Linked DNA regions of Homo sapiens: region 1 is linked to region 2. The links come from fine-mapping of genetic effects on gene expression. A gene starts in region 2. The other region holds a variant in brackets. All regions are shown on one strand. Distances are from middle to middle.

Region 1 (8,339 bases), 26 kb after region 2:
GGGCTGAAAGTTGAGTTAATCACCACGGCCAATGATTTAAATCAATCATGCCCTACATAGTGAAATCTCCATAAAAACCCAATAGGACAGGGCTCAAAGAGCTTCTGGGTTTGTGAATAAGAATCCGTCCATGTGCTGGGAGGCTGACACACTCCAGCTCCACAGGGACAGAAGTTCCCGTGCCCTGCACCATTCCGGACCTCACCCTGTGTATCTCTTAATCTGACTGTTTATCTGTAGCCTTTGTAATAAACCAGTAAACATTAAGTGTTTCCCAGCCCTGTGAGCTGTTCTAGTAAATGACTGAACCTGAGAAGGGGGTCATGGGAACCCTTGATTCAGAGTACAGATCACAAGCTGGGACTTACTACTGGCACTGGAGTAGGGGCAGTCTTGTGGGGTCTGTGCTCTGTATTCATCAGTGCAGCCTGGAGTTGGACATCCAGTTGGTGTCTGCAGAGAACTGGAGAATTATTCCCACACAGAATAACCCCTATACATTTGGCAGCCAGAAGTGAAGTGTGAGTGTAAGCATGGTGAAAAATACAGTTTGTTTTTCTCAGTCACTCAGCTGCAGAACCTTCCTCTACCCTCAGGCCCCATACTGTTGACATTTCTGGAAAGGGAGCCCCTTTCAGACTGCATTCCTCCCACTAGAGGACTCTGTCCTTCCCCAATTTTCTCTCTCTCTCTCTCTCTCTCTGTCTCTCTCTCTCTGTCTCTCTCTGTCTCTCTCTCTGTCTCTCTCTCTGTCTCTCTCTCTCTCTCTCTCTCTCTCTCTCCCCTCTCTCCCCTCTCTCCCCTCTCTACCCAGTGCAGCTCCTCTCCTGGGCCCCTCTCCTCCCAATCACCTGCATGATTACCAATTACCAGCCCTCCAGTTTACTTCCATTAAGGATTCCATCGTCCAGTCTGCAGTCTGCTCTCCAAAGGCATGATTTTCCATACAAAAAAAAGTGTTAGTTTCAAACAACCAGCTTACCAACAAGCTCTATCCATTCGAATGGTCTGTTCAAGACTATTTTATAGTGAAAATTGCTATCTAGCCACATCTCTCCAAATCTTACAGTGAAAACTGTGCTTTTGATATATGTCAGGATGAAGTTAAGTCAAAGTTTCCTGTTTCACTTTTTACTGTACTTATGTAAATCAATCATTAGTGGACTCTTAAATGGTTTCCTAATGCCAGAAATGATTAGTCACTCAATGTGTTAATGGCACATTTTGTGAAATCTTTTCCAATGCAAAAACCACACAGCATCTGGGCTTCCTGTTCTGTATTTCTTTCTGGCCTTCACTATCTTGAAATTATCTGGTGCATATTTTTTATTTCCGCTTATTTATTGGCAGTATTTTCATTCTCTACACTTTTCTTCTCCTTATATTCTTTTAGGCTAGTCTTTGAAACGTCAGTCTCTGTCCATTGAAACTAAAATAAGAAAGAAGGAGAAAAGGAAATTGATGTCTTTCAAGTTGTAATAGTAATATGTTTCGTTTATAAAAATCAATTTTTTTTACCAGTAAAACATTAACTTTTGGCCTTCATTAATCAGAAAAGAAAACTGGATCAGTCTGAAAATGCCTTTCTCAAATAAGTCATACCATCCTTAGAACAGTGATGCAGCAGTTCTCAAGCTTGAGAACACATGGGAATCACCTGGAAAGCTTGTAAAAACACAAGTTGCTGGGTCCCATCCCTAGAGTTTCTGATTTAATAGGTCTGCGGTGGTTCCCTGAGAACTGACATTTCCAACATGTCCCAGGTGAAGTTGATGCTGCTGGTCGGCAGCACACTCTGAGAACAAATGGTGCAATATCAGAACTCACAAAGGCCTTGGAAATCATTTCTGCCTTACTTAGAGCGCTGCTGGTTGCAACTTACAAAATCCCACTCAGACTGGCCTGAGTGCAGAAGGGCATTTATTGGAAGCAGTTGGGATATCTGCTAGACTCCAAAATGAAGTTGAAAAATCAGGTGGAATATGGCACCAGTAGGGAGCACCAGGAAGGATGCGGTTCTCAGAGAAGAGTGGTGTAGGCTCAGCAGAGACTCTAAATATCGTTACTGCATCATCTCAGCTCCCATTTTTCAAAAGAGAACTGCAGTTTGAGGAAATTAAGAGCTTGCTACAGAGCATACATCTAATAGTGGCAAAGCCAAAGCTGGAAGTGGTGAGTAGCAATCTGTATCTTAGCCAGTGGTATGCTGGAGCTGTGGGTACCAGCCCCAGAGAGCTGGTTGTTAAATATTCAGGAATCTTTTGAGCAGGTCAATCTTGGTAGCTGGAAGCTGGCCACAGTCAGAATATTTACACTGAAATATTGGCTGATATTACAGACCAGGATCTTTTTTCTTCCTCTCTTTCTTTTCAAAGAGCAAGCTAACAGCACACCATTGCCTAATTCCATGTAGGGAGGATTTAGAATCAATGCAGATGTCATATATTGAACAAGAGGCAATCCCAGTGTGCAGTTTTTTCCAGTAGTAGCCATCCCTAATCCCACTATTGGCTGATGGCCCTGGTGCTGCCAGCTAGACCTCTTTATTTTATTTTTACTTTCTTTCTTCTCTCTCTCTTTCTTTCTTTCTTTTTTTAGACAGAGTCTCACTCTGTTGCCCAGGCTGGAGTACAGTGGTATGATCTCAGCTCACTGCAACCTCCACCTCCCGGTTCAAGCAATTTTCCTGCCTCAGTCTCCCGAGTAGCTGGGATTACAGGCACGCACCACCACACCCAGCTAATTTTTGTATTTTTAGTAGAGATGTTTCACCATGTTGGCCAGGCTGGTCTTCAACTCCTGACCTCAGGTCATCCACCTGCTCAGCCTTCCAAAGTGCTGGGATCATTCTTTTCTTCTTGAGACGGAGTCTTGCTCTGTTGCCCAGGCTGGAGTGCAGTGGCTCAATCTCAGCTCACTACAACTTCCGCCTCCCAGGTTCAAGCAATCCTTTTGCCTCAGCTTCCAGAGTAGCTGGGATTACAGGTGTGAGCCACCATGCCTGGCCTAGACTCCACTTTGTATGTCCAATCTTTCAAACCTCTCTTCTATGCATGAGTGGTGCTCTCTCTCTAACACACGTCTGCAAAACAAGCCCACCATCTATCTCATTGTCTTTGTGCCTGCTCTTGTTTCCAGATGCAAAGCCAGTTCCTTCCTAACTGTTGAACAGTAGAACTTCAGAATTAAAAGAATAAGACAAGCCTGATTAAGTGCATGTAAGGCCAAAATAAGTGTCTTTAAGAGACTCGCTTAAAAAAAAAAAAAGAATAAGGCAGCCAATAAGCAACTTCTTCCTAGGGATATTGACTTATTG[C/T]GTAGCTATTTAAAGAAGGAAATTCATGTGCAAATTGCCCTAGACTTCTTTCTCCAGGCTCCCGTTGTGTGGCTTGGCTGCCCACTACCTCATTCCCATCAATGGACAATGGCTGGGAGAGAAAGCCTCCGTGACTGTAAGTGACTCCCCAGACCCTTGGCCTCTGCCACCTGTCACCGAGCCCACTGACGCACCTCCACTGTCACGTTGGCAGTGCTCCATGCAGTCTCTTGTCCCACATTTCTTAAGAGGCAAAAATTACATTTACTTTACTGACCACAAGCCAGCACTGGGAGCTGGGAGGGTCGGGGTGGAGTGTTTCCTTCCAATAATGCTTCCTGGGGAAGGAAGCCTAAAACAACACAAAGCAAAGCTCCAGCCTTTCCAGAGGAATGTGGGGGCAGCTATTGCTGTCGCTGCCGCTGCTGCTGTGATTTTCTGGAACACAATGTCGTCATGAGAACTCCTAGGCACCCTCTCCCATGGCAGACCTGCTCTACTGGCATGCTTATTTGGGATACTGAGAAAATATGAGGATGCCAAGACAAATGAAGTCTTGGCACTCACATCTACGGAGATAAAAGCATTTTTATGAATTCTGATGCTTTTCCTTCTTTTTTTCTCTTTCTTCTTCCTCCTCCTGCCTCCTCATTCTCCCTCTCCTCCGCCATCAACCCCATCTTATAAATAGTTGTTGAACTTCCACTATGAATTTCCACCAACGTACTGAGCTAGGTACTTTGAGAAACACAAAAATGTGCATTGAGGTAAAAGGAACACAGCACAGGGATCTAGTGACCTCCCTTTCTAAACCTCATTTTATTCACTGTTTTCTCAAAAATTCATGTGGATAATATGATTGTTAATGATGAGGTATAACATGTTCTGCCCTTGTAGTCTCCTGGGAGAGGCAGGTACTTGGAAAACTACTGAGAACCTGGAGAAGTGCCTTTAATAAAGTGATAAACACAAAGTCCTAAGATTGCATCTAGTTTATTGAATCACAAAGTGTTTTCAATGGATTAGTGGATTGTATAATGTAATCTTTACAACAATCCTGTGCAGTAGGAAGGGGAACAATGTTGTTAGTTTTTGGTTTATCTGTCCCTCCACAGTCCCTGGAGAAGGGAACTTGTTATAGAGTCAGATTTTTATAGTTAAAGCAACTATTGGAAAAAGAAAAGAAAAACCACCAGCCTAGCACGTTCCTTATATGGATGAGGAACCCGAGGTTGGAAGTCAGCCTGAGGTAATAGAAAAAGCAGAACATTCCACCTGGTCACCTGGGTTCCTGCTCAGTTCTCAGCCATATGCTGGACACATGATTTTGCACATGACTTCTTTATGCCTTGATACCCTCTTCTGTAAAATTAAGTCAACACTATTTTATCTGACTGTCTTATTAGGCTGTTATGAATGTTAAATGAGAGAATGAATATGAAAACACTTTGTGAAACATTAAATGCTATTATAACTAACAATACCTTTTTGTACCAGGTATCACGGAACAGTCTCCACTCCAGGTTATGGATCCACTGTTGGGCAGTTCTACACTGCTCACATCCGGATGCCGATTCTGCCAGCAAATCCATCTGATTCTATCTCTCTCTCCGGTCTGTCTAACTCTAGGTTCTGCACATGTCTAACATGTGGTTGTGTGAGTGCCAGAGTGCAAGCTCTTGGGAGGCAGGGGACACATTTATTGATGTTGTATCACCAACATTTAGTACATGCCTGCTAAAAAGTTACTGTCAACATATTTGTTGAACAATGATTACTGGATGGGTGGATGAAACATCAATATGACTTGCCCAAGGGCAGTTATGAATGTCTCCAAAACTATTTCAGGGGTAATTCATGAACATGTCCTCTGAGGATTCTTCTTCCATCTCTAAGTCAGTTCCTATGATATGACTACCTCAGGGCAAGAAAGTCACTGTGTCCCTGCTACAACAAAAGATCACTCATGTTTCCCGACCACTCATGTTACCCTCTCTCTTCTCAAGAGGGCATTTCCTTTCAATGATGTGATTTTACATACTGCATGCCTGTATCAAAACATCTAATGTATCCCATAAATATACATATATCTACTATGTACCCGCAAAAATTAAAAAAAAAATTTTTTTTAAAGAGGGCATTTTGGCCAGGTGCAGTGGCTCACACCTGTAATCCCAGCACTTTGGGAGGCCAAGGTGGGTGGATCACTTGAGATCAGGAGTTCAAGACCAGCCTGGTCAACATGGTGAAACCCTGTCTCTACTAAAAAATACAAAAATTAGCCAGGTGTGGTGGTAGGCGCCTGTAATCCCAGCTACTCGGGAGGCTGAGGCAGGGAGAATCGTTTGAACCTGGGAGGCAGAGGTTGCAGTGAGCTGAGATTGTGCCACCGTGCTCCAACCTGGGTGACTGAGCAAGACTCTATCTCAAAAAAAAAAAAAAAAAAAAAAAGAGGGCATTTCCCATTTCTTTTTATAAACTCTATTCCAGTTATGTTGAGTGTCAGCCAAAGATCTGAGGTTGGTGTCCTGCAGCCAGTACTGCTGGAATGGATTGACAGTCATGGGAATGTACCAGGTATCATGGGGGCAGGCCCTGCTCTAGGTTATGGAGCCACTGTTGGGTAGTCCTACCCTTCTCACATCCAGATGCAGATTCCGCTGGCAATTCCATCTAGTCCTATGAGACATTCCCTGGAAATGATGTGCTCATCCTCATCAGCTACGTGATGAATGAATCCAGGGGTGTTTGTCTGTGAAGTGTCTGCTATCTCCTGTGCTTGATTTACTGACGTGGATGTTGTTCTCGAGGTGTGGGTTGAAGCCATGAAAATAAATGCCTTCAAGGAAGGTATGTAAGCAGACTGCAGTATTGGAGGGTACTCACAGTTGGTAAGTAGGGCAGGGAAGAGGAATGAGAAAAGGTAAGAAGGAGAGAGAGAAGTGAGAGAATGAGAGTGAGGTAGTGACACTAGGAAAGTGACATGTCATGGGAGACAAAAACAAAAACAAAAAAAACGAGAGAGAGACGAAATAACAGTGCCACATCCTGATAGAGTCATCAAACTCTGATGAAAGTCTATTAAATATGGCAATAAAGAGGTCATTAGCAAGATGTAGGAGAAAAGGTTTAGACATGTGATGAGTGAGAAGAAAGCCAGGAGAGATGTGGCTGCCCAGGAAGGTGAGGCAGTGGTGGTGCCTGATGTATTCAAGTATTTGGATAGGAAAGAATGTTGCCCTGTAGAGGAAAGAATGTTGCCCTGTAGTGAAAAGAACCACCAGGTTCAAATGAAGATCATGTCAATGTGGGCAAATCTCAGTACACAGGATGATAGGAGAAAAAGAATCAGAAGAGAGAGGATGTTTCAAAGGGAAGAGTGGCTGAGGGATCCAGATTTTTAGGAAAGGATGGGATTCATATGACTGAGGTCAGAATCCTAGCCTAAAGTTGTAAAATGAGGTCAGTGAAGTTACACTGTCAAACGCCAGCTCCCCAAATGACCATAGAAAACCCTTAGAACCAAGCAAAACTAAGGGGTAGATATTTACAGGGATTTGTGGGTCTGGGTTCAAGTGGTTTAAGGCAAATCTTTTTTTTTCCTATGTCTTGTAAATTTTTTTTTTTTTTTTTTTTTTTTTTTTACTTTAAGTTCTGGAATACATGTGCAGAACATGCTGGTTTGTTACATACGTGTGCCATGGTGGTTTGCTGCACCTATCAACCTGTCACCTAGGCTTTAAGCCCCACATGCATTAGCCACTTGTCCTGATGCTCTCCCTCCCCTCACTCACCCCCTGACAGGTCCCAGTATGTGTTATTCCATTCCCTGTGTCCATGTGTTCTCATTGTTCAACTCCCACTTATGAGTGAGAACATGTGGTGTTTGGTTTTCTGTTCCTGTGTTAGTTTGCTGAGGATGATGGCTTCCAGTCTCATCCATGTCCCTGCAAAGGACATGATACCACATTCCTTTTTGTAGCTGCGTAGTATTCCATGGTGTATATGTACCACATTTTCTTTATCCAGTCTATCATTATGGGCATTTGGGTCAGTTCCATGTCTTTGTTATTGTGAATAGTGCTGCAATAAACATGTATGTGCATGTATCTTTATAATAGAATGATTTATATTCCTTTGGCTATATACCCAATAATGGGATTGCTGGGTCAAATGGTATTTCTGGTTGTAGATCCTTGAGGAATTGCCACACTGTCTTCCACAATAGTTGAACTAATTTACATTTCCATCAACAATGTAAAAGCATTCCTATGTCTCCACAGCCTCACCAGCATCTGTTGTTTCTTGACTTTTTAATAATTGCCATTCTGACTGGTATGAGATGGTATCTCATTGTGGTTTTGATTTGGATTTCTCAAGGTGAATATTTTAAATGGGGATCTGATTGGGAATCAACAAAATTCATGACATGATTGTTTAGTCTTGGTGGACAGGGCAAGGTGAAAAATCAAGTTTTGGATAAGCAGACAGTGGTTTGACAAGCGAACTGTTTGCCAAGGTAAACAATCTATTGTCCAGAGAAGACAGCTGTTTTCCCAGGTGAGCAAACTATTTGCCCAGCCAAAAACAAATAGGGAAGTTACTTACTGATTTACAGACAATAATTTCCTGGAAAGAATAGTTGTCATGTTGACAGAGATGGTCATAGTGCTTAGTTCTGAGAGGTAAGCTCTGTTCACCGATGCAGGTGGTCTCAACTTGCAACACTGAGGTCCTCCCTAAGAATAAGCATGAACCAGAAACACTACAGTGGTGGTTCCAAACTTTGTTGAAGAGCTTCACAAAATACTGATGTCTGGTTCCCATCCTTGAACATTCTGATTTAGTTGGTAAGGGGTACAACCTGTGCACTGGGATTTTTAAAAGCTCCCCAGGTGATTCCAAACGGCAAAGTTTGAGAACCACTTCATTAGAGTTAAAGGAGAAAGTAGGGATAAAATGACTATTTGGGTGATGGCGATGTGGCCAGATCCCATCTCTATAACAACTTTTTAAAAAATAG
Region 2 (8,339 bases):
CCAACCTGTGTCAACAGTCTCTTCCAGCACAAGGTGGCAGCACCGGCATACAAATCTCTATATAAACAGGGGGCCCGTAAACTTTAAATTCAATCACAAAAGCAAGATGGGAAAGCCACGTGAACTGCATTTATTCTATAAATTGGATGGTAATCTAAACCTGACAAATGATCAAAATGTTTCTCTGTTAAGAACACATATCCATGCAAATCAGGTTTCAAGTATGAGTAAAACTAGACTGCATGGCAGACAGGAAGAGGAGCTGGATGCTGTGCGGCCTCTCTCCTTTAGCCTGGCACCCCAGGTGGGATTTCATACTTCTCTGTCTGGTGATTCAGAAATGTTCTTCTGTGGAAAGTCCTAGGCTGGATGCAGCAAAATTACCCGACGTGCTTATTAAAAATGCAGATTCCCTCTCTCATAGCCCATTCTGATTAAGTAGGTATACGATTAGGTACAGGCAGTTATCTTCTTCTTTTTTTTTTTTTTTTCTTTTTTTGAGACGGAGTCTCGCTCTATCACCCAGGCCGGAGTGCAGTGGTGCGATCTCAGCTCACTGCAACCTCCACCTTTCAAGTTCAAGCGATTCTCTTGCTTCAGCCTCCTGAGTAGCTGGGATTACAGGTTCACGCCACCCCACCCAGCTAATTTTTGTATTTTTAGTAGAGACGAGGTTTCACCATGTTAGCCAGGCTGGTCTCGAACTCCTGATCTCAAGTGATCTGCCCAACTTGGCCTCCCAAAGTGCTGGGATTACAGGCGTGAGCCACCACACCGGCCGCAGTTATCTTAACAGGTGTTCCAGCTGATTCTGAGGCACAGCCCTGTTGTGGCTACCTGCATCTGTATGTTTAATAAACATAACACCAGCGCTTAGCTATGAATATTTGGCTGTCTCTGCCTTTCACATAGTGGTTCTTTCTAGGTTCTGAACTCGCAAAGCAGTTAAATGCAGAAAGAGCTACACTCTCCCATATGGTAGCTGCCGGCCACATGTGGCTACTGGACACTTGAAATATTGCTGTTCTGCACTGAGATGTGCTGTCAGTGTTAAATAACACCAGATTCCGCAGACTCCATAAGGGAAAAATAATGTAAAATATTTTATTCCTAGCTTTTTATACTAATTACATGTTGAAATGATTTTTTAAATATATTACGTTAAATAAAAGATATTCTTAAAATTAATTTCACCTGCTTCTTTTCATGTTTTTAATGTGACTACTAAAAATATTAAATTATATATGTGGCTCACAATATATTTCTATTAGACAGCATTGGTTAGAGGATGTAAATAGCTTTGGCAAGAATGGAGGGGAAAGTGGAAATCGGAGAAGCAGAGCCTAACAGGGCTCAAGGGAAGAATTCTTGACCGCATGGAATTCTAAGCGCATTCCTCCACCCGGGCCTCACATCCTGGCAGCCAGGCCTGGAAGAGAAACGTCCTTGAGCCTGCAGCCGCTGCAGTGCTTTAATAACAGTTTATCCATGGGAGAGTTCCAACTTGAGCACATGCTGGCTGTGAACACCCACTCTCCAAATAGGTTGAGTTCTGAGACAGACTGGATGTTAGTCACTTGCCGGCTCTCAGAGGGCATTTCACATAGGAAAAAAACGTGGTTCCTGCAGACGGTTGCTGGTATGTGGAGTCCCCCCGCCCGCCGCGGGGCTTACTGAACCTGTGCAGTAGGTGAAATCTCTACTTTTACAACAAAGGAAAGCTTGATGGTTCATTGTTAAACAAAACCATATTTGTTTGTTTGTTGTCAATTTATACATAAGAATAAGAAAGAGTATGTTAAAGCAGCTTCTCTGCAGTACTAGTACTGTGCTCCAAGAAAGGCAGGTTTATACTTAGCTGTGGTCCTCAGTGGAGTCCCCAGACCTGCAATATCTGGGAACAGCTAAGAAATTCAAATTCTCAGGCTCCAGTGCAGACTTAAGAGATCAGAAACTCTATCTAGGGGTGGAGTTAGCAATCTGGACTGTGACCAGCCCTCCAGGTGATTGTGAGAATGCATCCTAAGACAGAGAACCACAGAGCCACAGAAAGAAGAGGCCCTGTGAAGGGAGACCCGAGGGTATGGAGAGTTGTTGGCTCCAGCTTGGGCGCACTCGTTCTCTCTTTCTGTTTCTTTCTTCCCTCTTCCCTTCTGTTCTCTTTTCCCCTTCCGCCTCCTCTTCCTCCCCCTCCTCCTCCTCTTCCTCCTCCCCCTCCTCCTCCTCCTTCTTCTTCTTCTTCTCTCTCTCTCTCCCTTTCTCCCTCCCTCCCTCCCTCCCTCCCTCCTCTCTCTCCTGTCTGCTGTCATTGGGAAGCTGTGTGGTCAGCCAGTCAAAAAGCAGATTTCAGAGTCAGGAGTTCCAGGGTTCACAGTTGAGCTCCATTCCCTACTGGGTGACTGAGGGCAGTTTCTAAACTTCTCTGATCCTGTTCTGCCCTCTGAAGAAGGGGAAAATAATACATCCTGTGTACGATTGTTATTGGGAATCAATGAGCTAGTGTATGGAAGAGGCTGCATGTGGTTCTTGGTACAAAGAAGCAGATTATTATCAGTTACATGTAGGTGAGGCATCCAAAATGCTAGGAGAAAAAACCTGAGCCTTTACACGGTATCGCTGTGTCCATTGTTACCTTATCAACTCCCATAGCATGCTCACTTTTTTTCATAGAAATTGTCTATTTTCCATGATTATTCAGTGAATCCACAACAATCTCATTCTTGGTTAGGGACTCATTAAAGTGTTATCAGTCTTATGGAATTATTTAAAACCTGTGAACTCCCCCAAATAATGCTTGAGGGTTCCAACCTTCCCTGCCCCCTCACAATACAGCTTCAGAAGCTGATTTGATCAAGTGAAACCACTGTGCCTCCTACTTCATTTTCCCGGGTTTGCTGCTTTTCTAAGTATGTCTCACAAAATGTATGCTGCTCTTTTTTTCTTTTAGTCTTCATATTGTATATTAGATCCCTAGACTTCTTTGTTCTACACATCTGCTGCTCTGTATTCTGACCTACATCTGCATACTGCTTTAATAGAATGGATGTTTGCAGACGTGACTGTGATATTGGAATATGGAAGGATCCATCCAGGGTCAGGAAGCAGCAGGCTGGCTTCATTCTCAGTGTTTGTTTTCTGGGTCTTTGAAGGAGAGGTGTTGCAGGGAAAAAGGTCGTGCATCAGGAAGTGTCATTTAAAAAGGACCTGAGTTGGGCTGAGTTATCAGCAAATACACGCCATGGCTGTGCTCCCCACCCCCCACCGTACACTAGCAGGGCAGCAGCTCTGATTGTCTAACGAGCAGCAGAGCCGCCCAGCAGCAACCACATTAGGAAGGAATCGGAAACCAACGCTCCGCTGGCTGTCACCCCTTACCCACTTGCTGTCAGGTAGAGTACTTGTTTATTATTAATTATCTATTTTCAGTATCCTGCACCTGGGGGTGAACATCATCGGTGCTAAGACTTTTTAGCCTATGGGGATCTCTGCTGAGCACTAAAACCACGGGCTTCCCCTTGGGAAGAGGCAGAAAATACACTTCCCAGGTTCTCACTGCCAGCTCTGACAGGCTGAACTGCAGTTGGAGAAGGAAACTGAGGACTGGGCTCCCTTCCTGTCTCCTAAGCCAGGGCAGAGCTGGGCTTCGGGTGATGGCAGGAGACAGAGAAGCAGGTAACTTCCCTGGAGGGAGCTGAGCAGGGCAAGTCCCCTCTTCCAGGGACATTCCAGGCATGACAGAGGTGCACAGGCACAGAAGCCCTGCTGCTTCGGCAAGCTAGGCTGCTCATAGCTGTGTCTACCCCTTCCCGGGACGTGGACTGTGGGGAGTGTCTATTCAGGACCATCTAGAAGAGTTCAGAGCCTTTCAAACTTCTTTTCAACATGCGTTCCTGACTGAGGACACAGCTCAAAGCTGCCTCTCAGGCTTAGAAACACTTCTTAATTTTCACTGTCGAGGGCTAGCTTTGAGTCAGATCCTTTCACCTCATCAAAAAGGGTGTCAGCACACAAGCGCTCCGAAATTACTCGCTTGGCTTTCTGCTCAGGGTGACTGTGGTAAAGAAGTTACAGCCCACAGGCAAACCCCAGTAATTGGCCTTGGCCTGGAGCCACACCTTGGAAGCCATCTCCCAGCGGGAGTGAAAGGACTGTGGGGACAGGGCATCAATGTCTGCCCAAGGCAAAATAGGGCGAACAGTAGCCTGCCTGTGGCACCCTCCCCACCTCTCTTCTAGAGCAGTAACCTTTCATTTTCTCAGCCTCTGCATGGGAAGTCTCATTTAGGCTCCTTAGTTCACCCACACCTTGCTACGACAAACAAAAAATGATAACCATTACAATATATGGAGTCCTTACTACGTGAGCAGCACTGTATAAGGTGTTTTCCATGTATCATCGTGATCTTCACAACAGCTGCTCAAGGAACGCATCATAATGGCCCCTTTGGAGGGAACTACAGGGACCCAGGGAGGCTAAGCTACCCTTTAAGGTAAAACTGGCCAGGCCAGGATTTGAACCCAAGCCAGCCTGACTCAACAGCAAGTGCGGTTTCCCCAACACTATACCATCTACCATTCCCAGACTTCTCAGGCTTAGGCTATGTCTGGTTTCTACGACATCATAAAATAAACATTATTAATTCATGAAGAAGCAAAGGACGTGAGCCATGGGAGTCATTGGGTAGATGAATATTGAATGACTGAATGGACCGGAGCTTCTGTCAGTTCCCTCTCATCCAAAGACTCAGCACCTCCAAGGCTCAGACTCCCAGGGCACTGCTACCTCAGAGATCTCTCCAGGCTCTGCTCACAGGCACTCACCCACTGCCTGACCTTGCAGGCTCCTGGAATTAAGCCATGAGTGGTTTCCTGTCTCTTGACAACATCTACCCAGAACTCAGACTTTGGTTTTCCTTTGTCCCTAGACCACAGCCTGAGGCAGCCAAACCCATTTCCTTGGGGATCCAGCGCAAACCAGAGAGTGTGGACAGGCCGATGGAAGAATGTTGGACCAGCTTTAAGAATGGGCTGTTCTAAGTCATGAATATTGTAGGAAGCAGCTCTAAGGACCACAGGGCTGGAGGGTGCACAGGAAGGGGCCAGTGCATACAGGTGAATGTTGGTTTTATTTTCAAATTTGTGCATCAAGGCTCTATCTACTTTTTTCCCTCTGAAATTAGGAAAATGGAAATAAGACACCCCTAGGAGTGCCACCATAGCATGGCCTAGCATTTTTTCAAATGATCTTTAGATTCAAGGATGATTCGGAGGAAATGGAGATGCTGATTATTTTGTTAAACAAATGCTGCCTGTTTAGAAACCACACACAGACAGCTCATGAAGTGGGAGAATGACTAATTGCTATGGCTAAAATCAACTCCCTTCAGTACTGGACTCACAGGGATCTTTCTCACAAGGCCCAATTATGCAAATTGCTGAGGCAGTCTTTTTTTTTTTTTTCCCCCCCCCTCTCCTCATGGCAGGAAAAAAGAAGCTGTTTCTCTTCCTTAAAACTGTTTTATCTGGCCTGAGTAAGGCACAGAGGCAACTTTCCCCTGGGGTGTGCCTGTGCTTGTGACTGTGGGCAGCAGACAGACCAAGCTGTTTCTCCTCTGCCTGTCTACACCTGTTCTCCACTTGCTCACACCCTGCTCTCTCCTCCTCTAGCAGTGGCTGCTGCTTCCCAGTCTCCACGGCTGCCCCTTCCCAGCATCTTCACACTGAAGGGCCAGTGTGCAGTCCTCCACCCCCTTCTTTCTCTTCCTCCCTTGGTGACTTCATTCAGTCTCTTGGCTTTCAATAGCGCCTGCCTCTGAGGAACCCTGCCCAGACCTCTCTTCTGCACCCCTACCCACATTTCCAAGTCCCGATGCATCCTCTCCATCTTCCTGTCCAACAGCCTCCCCTAACTTCCTAGGTCTAATGTGAAGGGCTGGGTCTTCCCCCAAACGTTTCCACAGGAACCTTTCTGTCTCAGTATTCTGTCTCAGATGCAGGGAACAGCATCCCCATCCTCCCAGGTGCTCCAGCCAAACACCATGGAGTAGTCTTTGACCTTGGTACCCCTCCTCTAATACCCAGGCTATCATCTATTGGGACATCTGCTGGCTTCAAAATATATCCAGAACCAGACTCTTTCTCAATCCCTCCATTACTATTGCTCTCCTCATTTCACTCAAAGTAAAAGCCAAAGTCTCCACAATGGTCTAAAGGCACTACCAGGCACTTTCCCTCTGACCTCACCTCCTACTTCTCTCCTCCTTCTAACTGCTCCAGCCACGCTGGCCACCTGGCTGTTCCCCAGACACACCAGGCACCTCCCCCGACCTTAGGACCTTGGCGCTGGCTATTGCCACCTCCTCAGGACTTTGGTCAAATATCACCTGCCCGCTGAGCCCTGCCTAGTCACCTCCAGGAATCAGACCCCAGAATGAGGAAGCCCTAGATCCCCAAGCTAGTACTCTCAATTCCTTGCCTTCTATATGAACTCATAACTCTATATAGAAGGTTATCACCTTCTAACATACTTGGTAATTTACTTATTTATAATGATTACTATTTATTGCCTGTCTCACTCACAAGAATGTAAACTCCATGAGAGAAAGGTGTTTTGTTTTTCCATTTTGTTCACTATGTATCCCAAAGGACTAGAACAGTTTCTAGGCACACGGTAGGCAGTTGATAAATATTTACTGAATGAATGAACACTACACAAACACCTTGCTGTTTCGTCTGACTGACACCTGGACCCTGAGTAAGGCTTAGATGTGGCTTTCACTCGGGGTGTGCCTGTCCCTGTGGAATCTTAATAAGGGAAAACACCATCCCAGGATTCCCCCTGGGGGAGGCCACTAGCATCCTGCCGACCTTTTTTTTTTTGAAGTAACTTAATTTTTATTTTCATGAATACAAAATAGTTGTACAGATTTCTGAGGTACATGGGATAATTTGATACAACCATACAGTGTATGGCTGAGGTATCCAGCACCTCAAGCATTTATCATTTGCTTGTCTTAAGAGCATTCCAATGCCACTCTTCTCGTTATTTTGAAATATACAATAAATTATTGTTAACTATAGTCATCCTATTGTGACACCAAACACCAGGTCTTACTCCTTCCATCTAACTATATTTTTGTACCCACTAACTAATCTCTCCTTATCTCCCCTCCCCACTACCATTCCCAGCCCCTGATAACCATCATTCTACTCTCTACCTCCATAAGATCAAGGGTTTTGCTCCCACAATATAAGCGATAATGTGATATTTGTCTCACTGCACCTGGCTTATTTCACTTAACAGTGTCCTCCAATTCCATTGACATTGCTGCAAATGACAGGATTTCATTTTTTATGGCTGAATAATATTCCATTATATATATCTGCCACATTTTCTTTGCCTATTCATTCATTGATGAACTTGTAGGTTGATTCCATATCTTGGCTATTGTGAACAGTGCTGCAATAAACATGGGAATGCAAATATCTCTTTGATATACTGACTTCCCTTCTTTTGGATATATACCCAGCAGTGGGATTCCTGGATCATATAGTAACTCTGTTTTTAGTTTTTTGAGAAACCTCCATACTGTTCTCCATAGTGGTTGTACTAATTTCCATTCCCACCAACAGTATACAAGGGCTCCGTTTCTCTTCATCCTCATCAGCATCTGTTACTTTCTGTCTTTTTGATAACAGCCATTTTAATTGGTGTAAGATGATATCTCATTGTGGTTTTGATTTGTATTTCCCTGATGATTAGTGATGTTAAGGATTTTTCCACATACTTCTTGGCCATTTGCATGTCTTCTTTTGAGATATGTCTATTCAGATCTTTTGCCTATTCGTAAATTGGATTTTTTGTTGTTATTGAGTTGTTTGAGTTCCTTAGATATTCTAGTTATTAATCCCTTGTCAATTGGATAGTTTGCAAATATTTTCTTATGTTCTGTAGGTTATATCTTGACTCCATTGATTGTTTCCTTTGCTTTGCAGAAGGTTTTTAGCTTGCTGTAATCCATTTGTCCATTTCTTGCTTTAGTTGCCTGTGCATTTGAGTCTTATTCAATAAATCTGTGCCCAGACCAATGTCTTAGAGAGTTTTTCCAATGTTTTCTTCTAGTAGTTTCATAGTTTCAGGTCTTCAATTTAACTCTTTAATCCACTTTGATTTGATTTGTGTATATGGTGAGAGACAGGGGTCTAGTTTCATTCTTCTGCATGTGGATATCAGTTTTTCCAGCACCATTTACTTAAGAGACTGTCCTTCACCAATATATGTTCTTGGCCCCTTTGCTGCTGACCCTTTTTCAAACACAACAAAAGCCATCTCGTCCATGT

Which allele goes with the higher level. Alleles are on the strand shown, and positions count from the first base shown. SD is a standard deviation of normalised expression in the study named.
For the expression in neural progenitor cells of the gene that starts at base 3,296 in region 2, C is the low allele of the variant in region 1 and T is the other (large effect, 0.86 SD a copy in Aygun 2021).

Evidence for each region.
Region 1: its variant is fine-mapped to the expression of STEAP1B-AS1 in neural progenitor cells (Aygun 2021, PIP 0.90).

The regions. Positions count from the first base shown.
Region 1 is chr7:22,586,350-22,594,688 of GRCh38, forward strand. No RefSeq gene overlaps it. Among named protein-coding and RNA genes, the nearest start is that of STEAP1B-AS1, 27 kb to the left of the region's middle. The variant C/T (reference allele first, on the strand shown) is at 3,317.
Region 2 is chr7:22,560,042-22,568,380 of GRCh38, forward strand. STEAP1B-AS1 (STEAP1B antisense RNA 1) reads left to right here and starts at 3,296. Exons shown (of 4, transcript NR_038393.1): 1 at 3,296-3,389; 2 at 4,925-5,111. RefSeq lists an enhancer at 3,321-3,822.